Linked DNA regions of Homo sapiens. The protein of the gene in region 3 purifies or fractionates together with the protein of the main gene of each other region. This does not show direct contact. Each region holds a gene or a part of one and is shown on either strand. Other genes may lie near its edges.

Region 1 (3,500 bases), on a different chromosome or scaffold from region 3:
AAATTATTGAATGAGACTTTACAAGTAAAGCAAAGTTTGATTCGTGGATTTAGGAGGAAAGGTATGTGCATACATGCATGTGTGTATGCATTCATTCATTCTTTCTAATGTGTAAATCATAAGTTTTCAAATATTTGAAGTGTTTCATTATAGTGACAATGTCAAAATACCTTATAACTCACTATCCTAAAGACCTTTTTAGATTATTTTAACATATTTAAAAATTTTAATTGAAATTTTTATCGAGTGTATTAGGGTTCTCCAGAGGGACAGAACTAATAGGATATATGTATGTATGAAGGGGCGTTTGTTAAGGAGAATTGGCTCACATGTTCACAAGGTGAAGGCCCATTATAGGCCACCTGCAAGCTGAGGAGGAAGGAAGCTAGTAGTGGCCCAGTCCGAGTCCAAAGGCCTCAAAAGTAGGGAAGCCAACACTGTAGAGCCTTCAGTCTGTGGCCAAAGGCCCAAGAGCCCTCGGCAAACCGCTGGTGTAAGTCTGAGAGTCCAAAGGCCAAAGAACCTGGCGTCTGATGTCAAGGGCAGGAGGCATCCAGCAGGGGAGAAAGATGAAAGCTGGAAGACTCAGCAAGTCACCTATCCCACCTTTTTCCTCCTGTTTTGTTCCAGCCTCGCTGGCAGCTGAGTGGATGGTGCCCACCCATATTGAGGGTGGGTCTTCCTCTCCCAGTCCACTGACTCAAATGTTAGTCTTCTCTAGCAACGCCCTCACTGACACACCCAGAAACAAGACTTTACAGCCTTCAATCCAATCAAGTTGACATTTAATATTAACTGTCACACTGATGTTTTCATGTACAGATGTAAGAAACAATGCAGAGTTCCTTTTCACTTTGTCCAGTGTCCGCCATTGATAACATTTTGCAAAATTGTAGTATAGTATTACAACCAGGATATTGATACAATCTCCCATAGCGTTCAGATTGCCACAATTTTGCTTGTACTAGCATGTGTGTGTGCGGGTTAAGTTCTATATAATTTTATCCCCTGCGAAGGTTTGTGTATCCACCACCATAGTTAAGATAACAGCCGGGCCCAGTGGCTCATGCCTGTAATCCCAGCACTTTGGGAGGGCGAGGCAGGCAGATCACCTGAGGTCAGGAGTTCGAGACCAGCCTGGCCAACATGGTGAAACCACATCTCTACTAAAAATACAAAAATTAGCCAGGCGTGGTGGCGGGCACCTGTAATCCCAGCTACTCGGGAGACTGAGGCAGGAGAATCACTTGCAGTGAGCCAAGATCGTGCCGCTGCACTCTAGCCTGGGTGACAGAGAGAGACTCTGCCTCAAAAAAAAAAAAAAAAAAAAAGGAACTGAACTTGCCAACACAAAGATCCCTTGTGTTGTCCTTTTATAACCACAGACATCTCCTGCCTACACTCCATGCCCTCATCCCCTTGCCCCCTTCCTCCGTGCCTAATCCATGGCAACCACTAATCTTTCTTCCTTTTCTAAAGTTTTGTCATTCTAAAAATGTTATATAAATGGAATTATGCAGTATATTACCTCTTAGGATTGATGTTGTTTGACTTAGCTGAGATTATCCAGCTTGTGTGTATCAGCAATTTATTCCTTTTTATTGCTGAGTAATATTCTGTAGTATGGATGTACCTTGTGTGTGTGTGTGTGTGTGTGTGTGTGTGTGTGTGTGTGTGTGTAGCTTTTTACCTATTGAAGGAAATCAGGCTAATTCTGGTTTTTGGCTATCACAAATAAAATTGCTGTAAACATTTGTGTACTGGTTTTTGTGTGAACATAAATTTGCATTTCTCTGGGATAAAAGACCAGGAGTGCAGTTGCTGGGTTATATGGTAGTTGCATGTTTAGTTTTATAAGAAAGTTTTTTTCAAAGTGTCTGTACCATTTTACATTCCCACTAGCAATATGTGAGTGATTTAGTTTATCGGCATTCTCATTAGCATTTGATGGTATCACTGCTTTTTATTGGAGCCTTTAAAAAGCCTAAACATGGTTTAGCATGTTTATGTTTTTAAGAAGATCACAGCCGGGCGCGGTGGCTCACGCCTGTAATCCCAGCACTTTGGGAGGCCTAGGCGAGTGGATCACGAGGTCAGGAAATAGAGACCATCCTGGCTAACGTGGTGAAACCCCCGTCTCTACTAAAAATACAGAAAAATTAGCCGGGCATGGTGGCAGGCACCTGTAGTCCCAGCTGCTCGGGAGGCTGAGGCAGGAGAATGGCGTGAACCCGAGAGGCGGAGCTTGCAGTGAGCCGAGATCGCGCCACTGCACTCCAGCCTGGGCGACAGAGCGAGACTCCGTCTTAGAAAAAAAAAAATCACAAATATTAATATTATCTTGACCACTCTTATAAGAACTCAGTGGTTTCAAATTAATTTTGTGCTTTTAATCCAGGATGATGCCTTCTGTGTACTGGAGTTGGTTCCATTTGCCTCTCACTTTAAGAGGCAGGTTTAATGTAAATGTGCAAGTTTCTACTTAAAAGTTTTGTTACTTCGAGTCCATGAATTTTTGCTGAAACAGTACCGAGGCATGATTTTTATAACTTCTCTTAGATCACTTTTAAAAATCTGAATCTTTAAAACTTTTACTGTTAGGAATTTTTGACAGTAAAGTTAATAGTTACCAGTTAGTATGCATTTACCATGGATCAAGACTTTGTAACTGCTTTACAAATACTGTTTTATATCCTTTAAAATTCTGCTTTTGTAGCTTGTAGCAGTTGGAGTTGTTTGGAATACAGTGGCCATGTGGAGCTGGGCTAGCAGTAGACTCACTATGTGTGGCAGGTAGTGTTCATCCTGCTCTAATTCATAGATGATTTTTTTTTTCACTATCATGGGAAAATTGTGGTAATGTCTTACATCTTTAACTTATGTGAGTAAACCATAATTCATGTGCAATTAAGAGAGGACTCTATAAAATAGTGTGTGGTCCCTGTGAAAAGCATGCTTTTCCAGGATCTTTTTCTTTTACATTTCTTAGAAGAATATGTTTTCTTCAAATTAAAGTACATATTTTATAATTATCACAAATAAGTTACATATCTCTCTATTCCTCTTCTACTTATTTTGTTTTTATGTACTAGACAGCTTTCAAATGATGTGTTTGTTTTTATTTTGTGTATCAACAGGTGACAGTTAAAGGATTTGAACCTTTAATTCAGTTTGCCTACACTGCTAAACTGATTTTAAGTAAAGAGAATGTGGATGAAGTGTGCAAATGTGTGGAGTTTTTAAGTGTACATAATATTGAGGAATCCTGCTTTCAGTTTCTGAAATTTAAGTTTTTGGACTCCACTGCAGACCAGCAAGAATGCCCAAGAAAAAAATGCTTTTCATCACACTGTCAGAAAACAGACCTTAAACTTTCACTTTTGGACCAGAGGGATCTAGAAACTGATGAAGTGGAGGAATTTCTGGAAAATAAAAATGTTCAGACTCCTCAGTGTAAACTCCGCAGGTATCAAGGAAATGCAAAAGCCTCACCTCCTCTA
Region 2 (3,500 bases), on a different chromosome or scaffold from region 3:
CTCTTTTTTTTTCTTTTCCCCTGCTCTGTTGTCCAGGCTGGAGTGCAGTGGCGCCATCTCGGTTCACTGCAAGCTCCGCCTCCCGGCTTCACGCCATTCTCCTGCCTCAGCCTCCCTAGGAGCTGGGACTACAGGCGCCTGCCACCACGCCCGGCTAATTTTTATTTTTATTTTTAGTAGAGACAGGGTTTCAACGTGTTAGCCAGGATGGTCTCAGTCTCCAGACCCTGTGATCCGCCCGCCTCGGCCTCCCAAAGTGTTGGGATTACAGGTGTGAGCCACCGTGCCTGGCCGAGGCTCCTTCTTTTGTAAGAACTTTGAGGGTGCTCTGGGTGTGGCAGTGGTGTGGCCAGGACAGCCACAGAGACCGTTCTGTAGAATGGGAACACCAGCCACCATGGTGGGGTGGCCAGGCCTGGCCTGTGGAAAAATGCAGGGAAAGCTAGTTAGCCAGTTAAAGCTTATTTCAGATAAATGACGAAAAATTTTTAGTGTAAGTATGTCTCAGATACTTCATGGGCCATACATTCACTAACAAAATTATATATTGTTCATGTATTGGGAGGCACTTGGCCTCCCAGAGTACTGAGATTACAGGCATGAGCCACTGCGCCCGGCCTGTTTTCTCTTCACAACAAAACGTCCCCACATGGGCTTGACTTCGAAGTCCTCGAATGTCATCTCATGGAAGCCCCACTGGGGAGCATCCTCAGCCCCTGCCCAGGGAGGGCAGCCACGGGGAGGGCGGGCACGGGGAGGGTGGGCACGGGGCTGCGGCCACCCGCTGTGTTGCAACTCTGCCCTCTGCTTGCTTTTTATCGCTGTGTCCGGAAGATGAGGAGCGGGAAGGCCTCCTGCACCCTGGAGACCGTGTGGGAAGACAAGCACAAGTATGAGGAGGCCGAGCGGCGCTTCTACGAACACGAGGCCACACAGGCGGCCGCCTCCGCCCAGCAGCTGCCAGCCGAGGGGCCAGCCATGAATGGGCCCGGCCAGGACGACCCTGAGGACGCTGATGAGGCGGAAGCCCCTGACGGCGGCAGCAGGCGTGATCCCAGGAAGAGCCAGGACAGCAGGAAGCCCCTGCAGAAAAAGAGGAAGCGCTCCCCCAAGAGCGGGCTCGGCCCCGCGGACCTGGCCCTCCTGGGCCTCTCGGCCGAACGCGTGTGGCTGGACAAGTCACTTTTCGACCAGGCAGAGAGCTCCTACCGCCAGAAGCTGGCAGATGTGGCTGCCCAGGCAGCCTGGCCTCCTGCCTTGGCCCCTTGGGGTCTCTGCACCCATGGAAACCAGGTGGCCTGCCACCACGTGACCTGGGGGATCTGGGTCAACAAGTCCTCCTTCGACCAGGCTGAGCGGGCCTTCGTGGAGTGGTCTCAGGCCCTGTTGCTGGCCCCCGACGGCAGCCGCAGGCAGGGGACTCCCAACACAGGCCAGCAGGTGGCCGTCCCCGACCTGGCCCACCAGCCCAGCCCACCGGTCAATGGCCAGCCCCCGCTGGGCAGCCTGCAGGCACTGGTTCGGGAGGTGTGGCTGGAGAAGCCCCGGTATGATGCAGCCGAGAGGGGCTTCTACGAGGCCCTGTTTGACGGCCATCCCCCAGGGAAGGTGCGCCTGCAAGAGCGAGCCGGCCTGGCCGAGGGTGCCCGGCGGGGCCGCAGAGACCGGCGGGGCCGCAACATCTTAGGGAACAAGCGGGCCGGGCTGCGACGGGCCGATGGGGAGGCCCCCTCTGCCTTGCCCTACTGTTACTTCCTGCAGAAGGATGCAGAGGCCCCCTGGCTCAGCAAGCCTGCCTACGACAGCGCCGAGTGCCGCCACCACGCTGCCGAGGCCCTGCGGGTGGCCTGGTGCCTCGAAGCTGCCTCCCTGTCTCACCGACCCGGTCCTCGGTCTGGCCTGTCCGTGTCCAGCCTGAGACCCAAGTAGGAGAAACGTGCTGGGTGGGCACCCAGCCTGGGCTGTGGGCACAGGGACAGCCATCCCAGGCTGGGGCTCCTCCAGCTTCCTCCCCTGCCCACCTGGGGTGGGGGCTCCCCGAGACCCGTGGGCCCAGCAGAGTTGAATGCAGGAGCAGGCTGAGTAAAGGTGGTGCTGCGCTTGTGGGTTCCAGGGACACTGCTTGAGGTTACAAAGTTCCAGGCTGCCTGGATGAGGGCAGGGAAGGGCTCAGCACAGGGCAGAATCTCTGCCTTGCCCAGGGTCCCTCTTTGGCTGGGAAGCTCCCCAAGTCCCCTGTGGCTGTCACATGCCAGGGCTGAGAAGATAAGGCTACTTATAGGGGCGGGAAGCATTGAAGCTGGTTTCTGGCCCTAGCGCTCCCCTGCGATGAGATGTGGGAGCCAGTGTGTCCCTGCCTGTCCATCCTGTGCACCCCCAGCTTTCCTTGTCACCTGAAACCACCTCTGAGGGAAGGTGGTGGCGTCTCAGATGCATGGGCATGTGGCTGGTCAGGTGGCCTCCATCCCAGGGTGCCCCGTCTGTGTGACCTCCCTCTGGGTGCTGTGGGCTTGCTCCAGGGTGCAGGTGCAACCCCAGCAGCGGTCTCTGGGGCCAGGCAGGTGGGTGGACGATTGGACTTGGAGGGGAATACAGAGGGCATGGAAGTGGCGAGGCTGGCCTGTTGGCGAGGGTGTCCTGGTGGTGGGGCGGGCTGAGTCAGGGAAGGACTCTGAAGGTCCCAAGCAGCTGCTGAGGCCCCCAAGGAAGTGGTTCCAACCTTGGACCCCTAGGGGTCTGGATTTGCTGGTTAACAAGATAACCTGAGGGCAGGACCCCATAGGGGAATGCTACCTCCTGCCCTTCCACCTGCCCTGGTGTTCACGGTGGCCTGGTCCCTCCTTGCCGAGAGAGTGTCCTGGGTCAGGGACGCAGAGGACGCTCACAGACTCCAGCCCTTTGTTACCGAGAGGACACTTGGCAAGGTCCAGCGATGGTCCGGAGTCCACACACAGACTGGCGGCAGGGCAGGAGGGGGACAGTTCTGTTGTGCTTGGTTGGACAGTAAGAGGGTCTTGGCCAGTCCAGGGTGGGGGGCGGCAAACTCCATAAAGAACCAGAGGGTCTGGGCCCCGGCCACAGAGTCATCTGCCCAGCTCCTCTGCTGCTGGCCAGTGGGAGTGGCACGAGGTGGGGCTTTGTGCCAGTAAAACCACAGGCTGGATTTGCCTGCGGGCCATGGTCCCTGTCTAGGGCAGCAATTCTCAACCTTCTTGCTCTCAGGACCCCAAAGAGCTTTCATTGTATCTATTGATTTTTACCACATTAGCAATTAAAACTGAGAAATGGGCCGGGCACGGTGGCTCACGCCTGTAATCCCAGCACTTTGGGAGGCCGAGGCGGGTGGATCACCTGAGATCAGGAGTTCAAGACCAGCCTGGCCAACATGGTGAAACCTTGTCTACTAAAAATACAAAAAATTAGCCAGGCACAGTGGTGTGCACTGGTAGTCCCAGTTACTCGGGAGGCTGAGGCAGGAAAATCGCTTGAACCCAGGAGGC
Region 3 (3,500 bases):
ACACAACCACAGACACACACACAGATACACACAGTCACACACACATCTGCAAACACACTCTCATACCCAGCCACAGACACTCTCACACACATACACAATCAACACACAGTCACACAAACACTCTCACAGTCACACACATACAGTCATACACACATACATACACCTCACACAGTCACACACACTCACAAAAACTCAGACTCACATGCAGACTCCCCACATTCACATTCACATACACACTCACACACACACACTCCACCCTGCAGCAGGAAATGCCCTTGACTTTCAAGTAAAATGGAGAGTACATTTGAATAGTTCCAATGTGCTAACATTTTAAGTAGATTCCAAAGGACAAGAAGCCCTCTTCCTTTGGTAGAATATTCCAAGCTGCCTTTCTACATATACTGAATTCCGCAGCAAGACGCTCTGAGCTTCCCAGTTTTGTCTCTGGAAGCCGTGCGCAGCCCTGTGGCCTGAGGCTTCCCTGAGGTCCACTGCCCTCCCCCAACCCATGCTTAGAGTCTTCAGAGCCGCCCGACAGGTGCCCCACGGGCCCCTCATCTGCCTTCTCCATAAGGACTTTCTCTTCTAGGATTTAAGCATTACTCATAAACCCGCTGAGGGACTTTTATTGAGCTGAGGGAATAACAAGAAGAGAAGAAGTCAAAATCTTTAGGTGAGACGAGCCCTTTGAAAATAACAAGAGGAGCTGGGAGGGAAGAAAGAAGAGGCCAGAGAACACTGAATAGCAGCAAAGGGGGAAGAAATGAAACCCACCTCACACCCAGAAGAAATTCCTGGAGTAAACGCAAACAAAAAGCAAGCAAAGAACATTAAACCCTTCATTATTTCCAAAAATATGACCCCTCTAGCTCGAATTCTGCCAAGTTCCAAATCCTTTGCCATGGGAGGGTTTGAGGTTGCTGTGCTCCCTCTCTGGGTATTTGTCGGGACAGTTTCAAAGCAGACACCTAAAAATTAGAGGTGGTGAAATCACTGTGGATCCCAGCTCTGCCTCAGAAATTAAGCTGCCTAAGGCAGTGGATCTCAAGTAGGGCAATTGTGGCAGTCTGCAGGGGACACTGGCAGTGTATGGAGACAGTTTGGGTTATCGCAGCTGGTCGGGGGTGCTACTACATCATGTGGCTAGAGGCCAGGGATGCTGCTCAACATCCAGCAGCACACAAGACAGGCCCCCAACAACAAGGAATTATGCTGCCCCATGCATAAACAGTGTTGAGGCTGAGAAACCCTGTTCTGGGCATCTAGGAGCAGGTGACTGGGATCAACGGGCTGCCTAGGGATACGCAGGGTCCAGGATGCCTCTGAGGCTGAAGACAGGATCAAGGACTGGTAAAGAAGTGGGTACCAGGGACCAGATATGACAACTAAGGTGAGAAAGAAAGAAGTAGGAACAGGCTAACAGGAGGCCATAGCCACACACAGACCCCATTTCACAAGTTAGAAAACTGAAGCTCTGAGAGGTACAGTGACTTTTCCAAGGTCACATAGACCTGGGATCTGACTCCTAACTTCAAGGTCAACTGCAACTCTCTTGTAGCATCAACAATTCTGCTTTTAGTTAGCAGTGCCTGGGTCCAGATTTCCCCATGATGGTTACCAGAAGTAAGAGGCCATAAGATCTCAGGACTTCAGAATAAGTCTACTCCCAAGCCTTCACTGATGCACTTCCCAGCAGAAAAATTGTGTTACCAGCAAGGGCTGTACAAATGAGTGCCACAATCAGTTTCTAAGCCACATGGGTGCTGCCATGAAGCTCTCAGAACATGCAATATCTGAAAAAACCATGGCAACACATACCACAATCACATTGCCCAAGTCATTTGTCAGTTTGTGACATTTGGGGCTCCTGAGGATGGCACTGCTGCTTTCCTTTTGTGACTCAAAATTCTTTCTCAGTCTTACACCTTTGGGGTGCCTGGTCGAGCCAGTCTGACCCACTTCTGAGCCACCTTTCAGCCTGGGTGAGATGAGACGAGACCCTGACTGTTCACTTTGGTTCTCATTTGTCAGTGTGGACTTTGGCACACGCCTAGTGTTCAGAGATGAATGCAGGTCGAAATCCCCACGGGAGGTGTGAGCGGGTTGAAGGGATGATTTGAAAGCCCACAGTGGACTCTGAGGTCTACAGACACACGTTAAGAACTGCTTCTCATCACCGTAGTCCAACTGCCAGCAACCACTGCCCAGAAAACTCTGCGTGAAGGGGAACCCCAGCCCCTGCCTCTCTGGCTTGGCCTGTGCAGCCTCTTCCCCCATTCTCCCCTCCACAGAGGGCTCGCCTTGACGGACACTCCTAGGACTTTGGAGATGGAGAACAAGGAGGGGAGGGAGGTGGCCGAAAAACTCCTAAGAGCTGCAGCTGGGGCAAGTTTCTCAGGGTGTTGGAGGCAACAGAGGCTCAAGTACTCACTTCAGCAGCACATACATTAAAATTGGAATGATACAGGGATTAACATGGCCCCTGAGCAAGGATAATATGCAAATTCATAAAGTGTTCCATATTTTTTTAAAAACCCAGGAAGACGAAAGAGCAAAAAAAACCCAAAAAAACCAGAGGCTCAAGTATAGGTAGAGTATGTGAGTGAGGTGAGGAGAGAAAAGTGGAAACTCTTGTTGCCCAGGCTGGAGTGCAGTGGCGTGATCTCGGCTCACTGCAACCTCCACCTCCCAGGTTCAAGCAATTCTCCTGCCTCAGCCTCCCGAGTAGTTGGAACTACAGGCGCACGCCACCACACCTGGCTAATTTTTGTATTTTTAGTGGAGATGGGGTTTCGCCATGTTGGCCAGGCTGGTCTTGAACTCCTGGCCTCAAGTGATCCACCCGCCTCAGCCTCCCAAAGTGCTGGGATTACAGGCACGAGCCACTGTGCCTGACCAAAAAGTGGAAACTTTAAACAAGTTTGCTCCAAATATCCCCCCTCAGGATATGCAAGAAATGCAAGTAAAGAGCTTGAGTTACTTTGAGATATTCAGGAATGCAATCCCTGCAGTGTGGGATAGAGGAACACATGAAGAAAGCCCTTTGATGCGCTACAGTCTCCAGGGAGCAGCAGGCAGTGGCTGTCAGTGGCTGTTTTCTGGGCCCTCTGGTGTCTCCCAATGAGCTGGCCTCACTCCAGATTTGAGGAGGAGGTTCCTATGCATGGTGTCCCCACCCTAGATTGGCCTGGGAGGTCCAGGGGTCCCAAGGGGCTTTCTGTCATGGCCCGCAGTAGTGTGCAAGGCGCTCTGTGCTCAACTCACTGGAGCTTGACAAAAGGGTTCTTTACACCATTTTTAAACCAGATACCTTGCCTCCAATAGTAGATTTAGTCATCCAATGATACACACAGCTACAATGCCCTCCTGGAAGGAACAGGGAAGGGATTACTCACGTGGTGAGTAATGATTTGGTTCAGAGATGATGTTCCTTTGGTTCTGCAGAAGGTTTGGGATATACTTCCATTTTCCTAAGCCAGTCGTCTGCTTCCTCACCCGCT
Region 4 (3,500 bases), on a different chromosome or scaffold from region 3:
GTTCCCGCAGCTGCTGGGCCTCCTCCACCTGCTGCACTGCCAGTCTCTGCTGTTCCAACTGTTCCTCATAGGGTGATTGGAATTTGATCATTGGCTTGGCTGAAGGGTACACCTAGGGTGAAAAAGAGTTGGTGCAGAGCAAGAGGGGTTAGCTCCTCTGGGTTTTCTCTTCATTTGTTTCTCCTGACAAACTCAGGAGGCAGAGCTGGTTTATTAACGACTATTTGTCAGGTGAACTGTGATTATACATGAAGTCCAAAAACTCCTATTTCCCAACTTTCTCTGAATCACCCTTGGCTTTTTTAGCAGCTGATATTTCCAACTACTGCTATTAAGGCAGATTTTCAATGTGCTCCCTTCTCAAATGGAACAGAAGGGACAACCGAAGATAACAGTTTCAAACTGTAAAATTTATGTTCACAAGGCTCTGATATAAACAAGTAGTTGGTAACTTTGGTAACTTCACATTAACTGGGCAATCTGTGACCTTATGCTACGCCTAAGGCTTTTTCCATGAACAGTTAAAGACCGAGGGATGCTAATTAACTCTAGTAATGTATATACCAATCCCAGGCTAAGCATAGCCAAAAAAAAAAAAAAAAAAAGCCACATTCCAGGTAATAGTGGAAAAGCAGATATTCAATTTTTTTTCAAAGAAACTAAGAATGGCTGAGAAGATGGTGCCTTCTGATTAAAGGGAAATCTGATACAGCAATTCTTAAAACTCTGCTTCCCTGAGATATTATCTCACCCCAGTTATAATGGCTTTTATCAAAAAGGCAACAACAAACGCTAGTGAGGATGTGGAGAAAGGGGAACCCTCGTACGCTGTTGGTGAGAATGTAAATTAGTATAGCCAATATGAAAAACAGTATGGAGGTTCCTCAAAAAGCTAAAAATAGAACCACCATATGATCCAGCTATCCTATTACTGGGCACATATCCAAAAGAAAGGAAATTGCTATATTGAAGAGATACTTGCACTCTCAGGTTTATTGCAGCATTACTCACAATGGCTAAAACATGAAATCAACCTAAGCATCCATCAACGGATGAATGGATAAAGAAAATGTGGTACATATACACAGTCATAAAAAAGAATGAAATCTTGTCATACGCAGTGACATGGATGGAACTGGAGGCCATTATGTTAAGTGAAAAACTTCAAGCACAGAAAGACATACATTGCATATTCTCATTCATGTAGGAGCTTAAAAAAGCGATATTGATAAGATAGAGTGGATTGGTGGTTACTAGAAGCTGGGAAGGGGGATGAAGAGAGACTGATGAATGGTACAAACATATAGTTAGAGAGAAGGAATAAGACCTAATGTTTGGTAGTTCAGTAGGGTGACTACGATTAACAATAATCTATCTTATATTTCAAAACAGCTAGAAGAATTTGAATGCTCCCAAAATAAAAAAGAGATAAATGTTTGATGTGATGGGTTATCTAGGTTTGATGTGATGGGTTATCTAGATTTGATCATTATACATTATATGAATGTTTCAAAATATCGCCCATACTCTGAAAATATATACATATATTATGCATCAATAAAAAGTGTCTGTACCCCATTGAGCTACTACCCATCCTCCCTGCCATACCCCAACTAACAAAAGCACACACAATTCTCACTTAAGGAAAGAGGTAGAGGGTTGGGAAGTAAAGCTGGTGGGGAATTACTTCCCCTATTGGGGAAGGACACAAGACTGGAAGAAGCTTTCTGAGGTTAAGTTTGCAACTACCTAAGAGGGCAACTACAGAGGTCTTCACACCTGCTTAGCCTAAAGCCTCAAGCGGCTTGAAGTCTCAGAAAATCTGAGGCCGAATAAAACTTCAGAGTTATAAATAGAAGGTGATCCACACCCATGTAAAGGCCAGGTAACCTACTATTGAGACTCAGTTTAGAGACAGTAAAAGAAAGGCATCTAGCTGCACTAACTGTTGGTTTAAAAGAAGAAAGGGTAGAGTTTTCTTTTAAAGCATCATTTATAATAATCCTGGCCATTTTTTTTTAAGAAAGGGAAAAGTCTTACGTGTAAGTGGCGTGTCCAGTAAGGGATCCTGAGCAGAGGCTGTTTAGATATGCTCACCTAGTAGAATATCTCCAAGTAGTAAAATCAGATTTTTGATAATTAAATAACCACCTTGAAGGTGAATACAAAAGGCAACATACTGACAATAAATGAACAGGGAGAGGAGGACGCCTGATCATAGAAAATGAGATTTTTCTCTGCCTCAAGATGCTCAAGACAAAACTTGGGTACAAGCTGGGAAGGTGCCCCATCAGGTACTCACCTGTTCTACTCTATTAAGGTGATGTGAGAATGAATCTCTGACTGTGTACAACTGACAAAAAGAAGAATGCACACATACAACAGCTGTGCTCTCTCATCACCAATCATCTTTCTGAGGTATGCGAATAGCTATGCTATTAACATTACAAGAGAAAACTTAAATATGAGCATATAATGTTTAGTAGAATCACTCACATTTCTATTTTAGAGATTGTGATATATTACCTTAATATGTAAAAATAAAGCCAGGTTTTCCATCCCAGTACACCATACCAGAAGCGGGTGACTTCATACCTCAGCACGCGCGTGCCCTTCCAGGAGGTTGGCTGCTTCTCGTTGCTCATGCTGCTCTTTCCACTCCCGATCCTGCTCCTCTGGTGATGGATCGTGTTCCTCCTCAAGATGTTCTGCTTGCCCGACCTGCTCCATTTCTTCCTCCTCCAGGGCCTTTCTGTGCTCCTCTTCCACCTGATGCTCCTCAGGTTCTCTGCGTTCCACTTCTTGTTGGATTGGCTCTGGGGGAGCCTGAAATTCTGCCTCCTTATGGGTGGGAGCATAGAGTTTTGTGTCTTCTGCTCTTCCAGGAACTGCTTCATGGTTCTGCCACACATCATTATTTCGAGACACCTAGGCCAAGCACATCACTGGGAATGACACTCTTCCAATTTCAAAAGTAATGATGTAATTTCTTGATTTCCATGTCTATGGGGCATGGGGCTACAACAGAAGAAGGTGTCTAGAAATATATATAGTCCTGGCTTTATGGCTGCAATGGAGTCACTTAAGTTTCTTACTGTGTAATCTCACTTATAAAATAGACATAATATAAGCAAAACTTCATCTGTGAAGAATACAGTAAATAACCTGGAAAATAAAACCTCCAAGTAACCAATATCTCAGAAGTACTCTAATTCCTATTTTCCCTTAGAATAAAAAGGAACAAAACCTCAAACTTCAAGTGATGAAATGTTTACATAATTTTCTTCAATGTAAATTTTGTTTTCAGTAATTATTTGAAAAGAGAAGGATGAAATAAAATTGAGGAGTTGGGTTTAGTTTTTACTAGTTTGGTTTACTAATTTAAAAAAGAATGCCATTGGCCGGGCGCGGTGGCTCACGCCTGTAATCCCAGCACTTTGGGAGGTCGAGGCGGGTGGATCACGAGGTCAGGAGATCGAGACCATCCTGGCTAACACAGT

What was found. The genes of interacting proteins can lie anywhere in the genome.
Region 1: the proteins of BATF3 (region 3) and BACH1 purify together in Homo sapiens (affinity purification with mass spectrometry; 2 studies listed by BioGRID and IntAct, with this or other methods). This does not show direct contact.
Region 2: the proteins of BATF3 (region 3) and EEF1D purify together in Homo sapiens (affinity purification with mass spectrometry; 2 studies listed by BioGRID and IntAct, with this or other methods). This does not show direct contact.
Region 4: the proteins of BATF3 (region 3) and GOLIM4 purify together in Homo sapiens (affinity purification with mass spectrometry; 2 studies listed by BioGRID and IntAct, with this or other methods). This does not show direct contact.

What each region holds. Positions count from the first base shown.
Region 1 is NC_000021.9:29,322,922-29,326,421, forward strand, and holds part of BACH1 (transcription regulator protein BACH1), read left to right. Parts: intron 1-3,137; coding exon 3,138-3,500. UniProt on the Homo sapiens protein: Transcriptional regulator that acts as a repressor or activator, depending on the context. Binds to NF-E2 DNA binding sites. Plays important roles in coordinating transcription activation and repression by MAFK.
Region 2 is NC_000008.11:143,587,416-143,590,915, reverse strand, and holds part of EEF1D (elongation factor 1-delta), read left to right. Parts: exon of another isoform or gene 1-308; intron 309-834; coding exon 835-1,925; intron 1,926-3,500.
Region 3 is NC_000001.11:212,689,841-212,693,340, forward strand, and holds part of BATF3 (basic leucine zipper transcriptional factor ATF-like 3), read right to left. Parts: intron 2,528-3,500; exon of another isoform or gene 2,424-2,527; intron 1-2,423. UniProt on the Homo sapiens protein: AP-1 family transcription factor that controls the differentiation of CD8(+) thymic conventional dendritic cells in the immune system.
Region 4 is NC_000003.12:168,029,925-168,033,424, forward strand, and holds part of GOLIM4 (Golgi integral membrane protein 4), read right to left. Parts: intron 2,929-3,500; coding exon 2,596-2,928; intron 113-2,595; coding exon 1-112. UniProt on the Homo sapiens protein: Plays a role in endosome to Golgi protein trafficking; mediates protein transport along the late endosome-bypass pathway from the early endosome to the Golgi.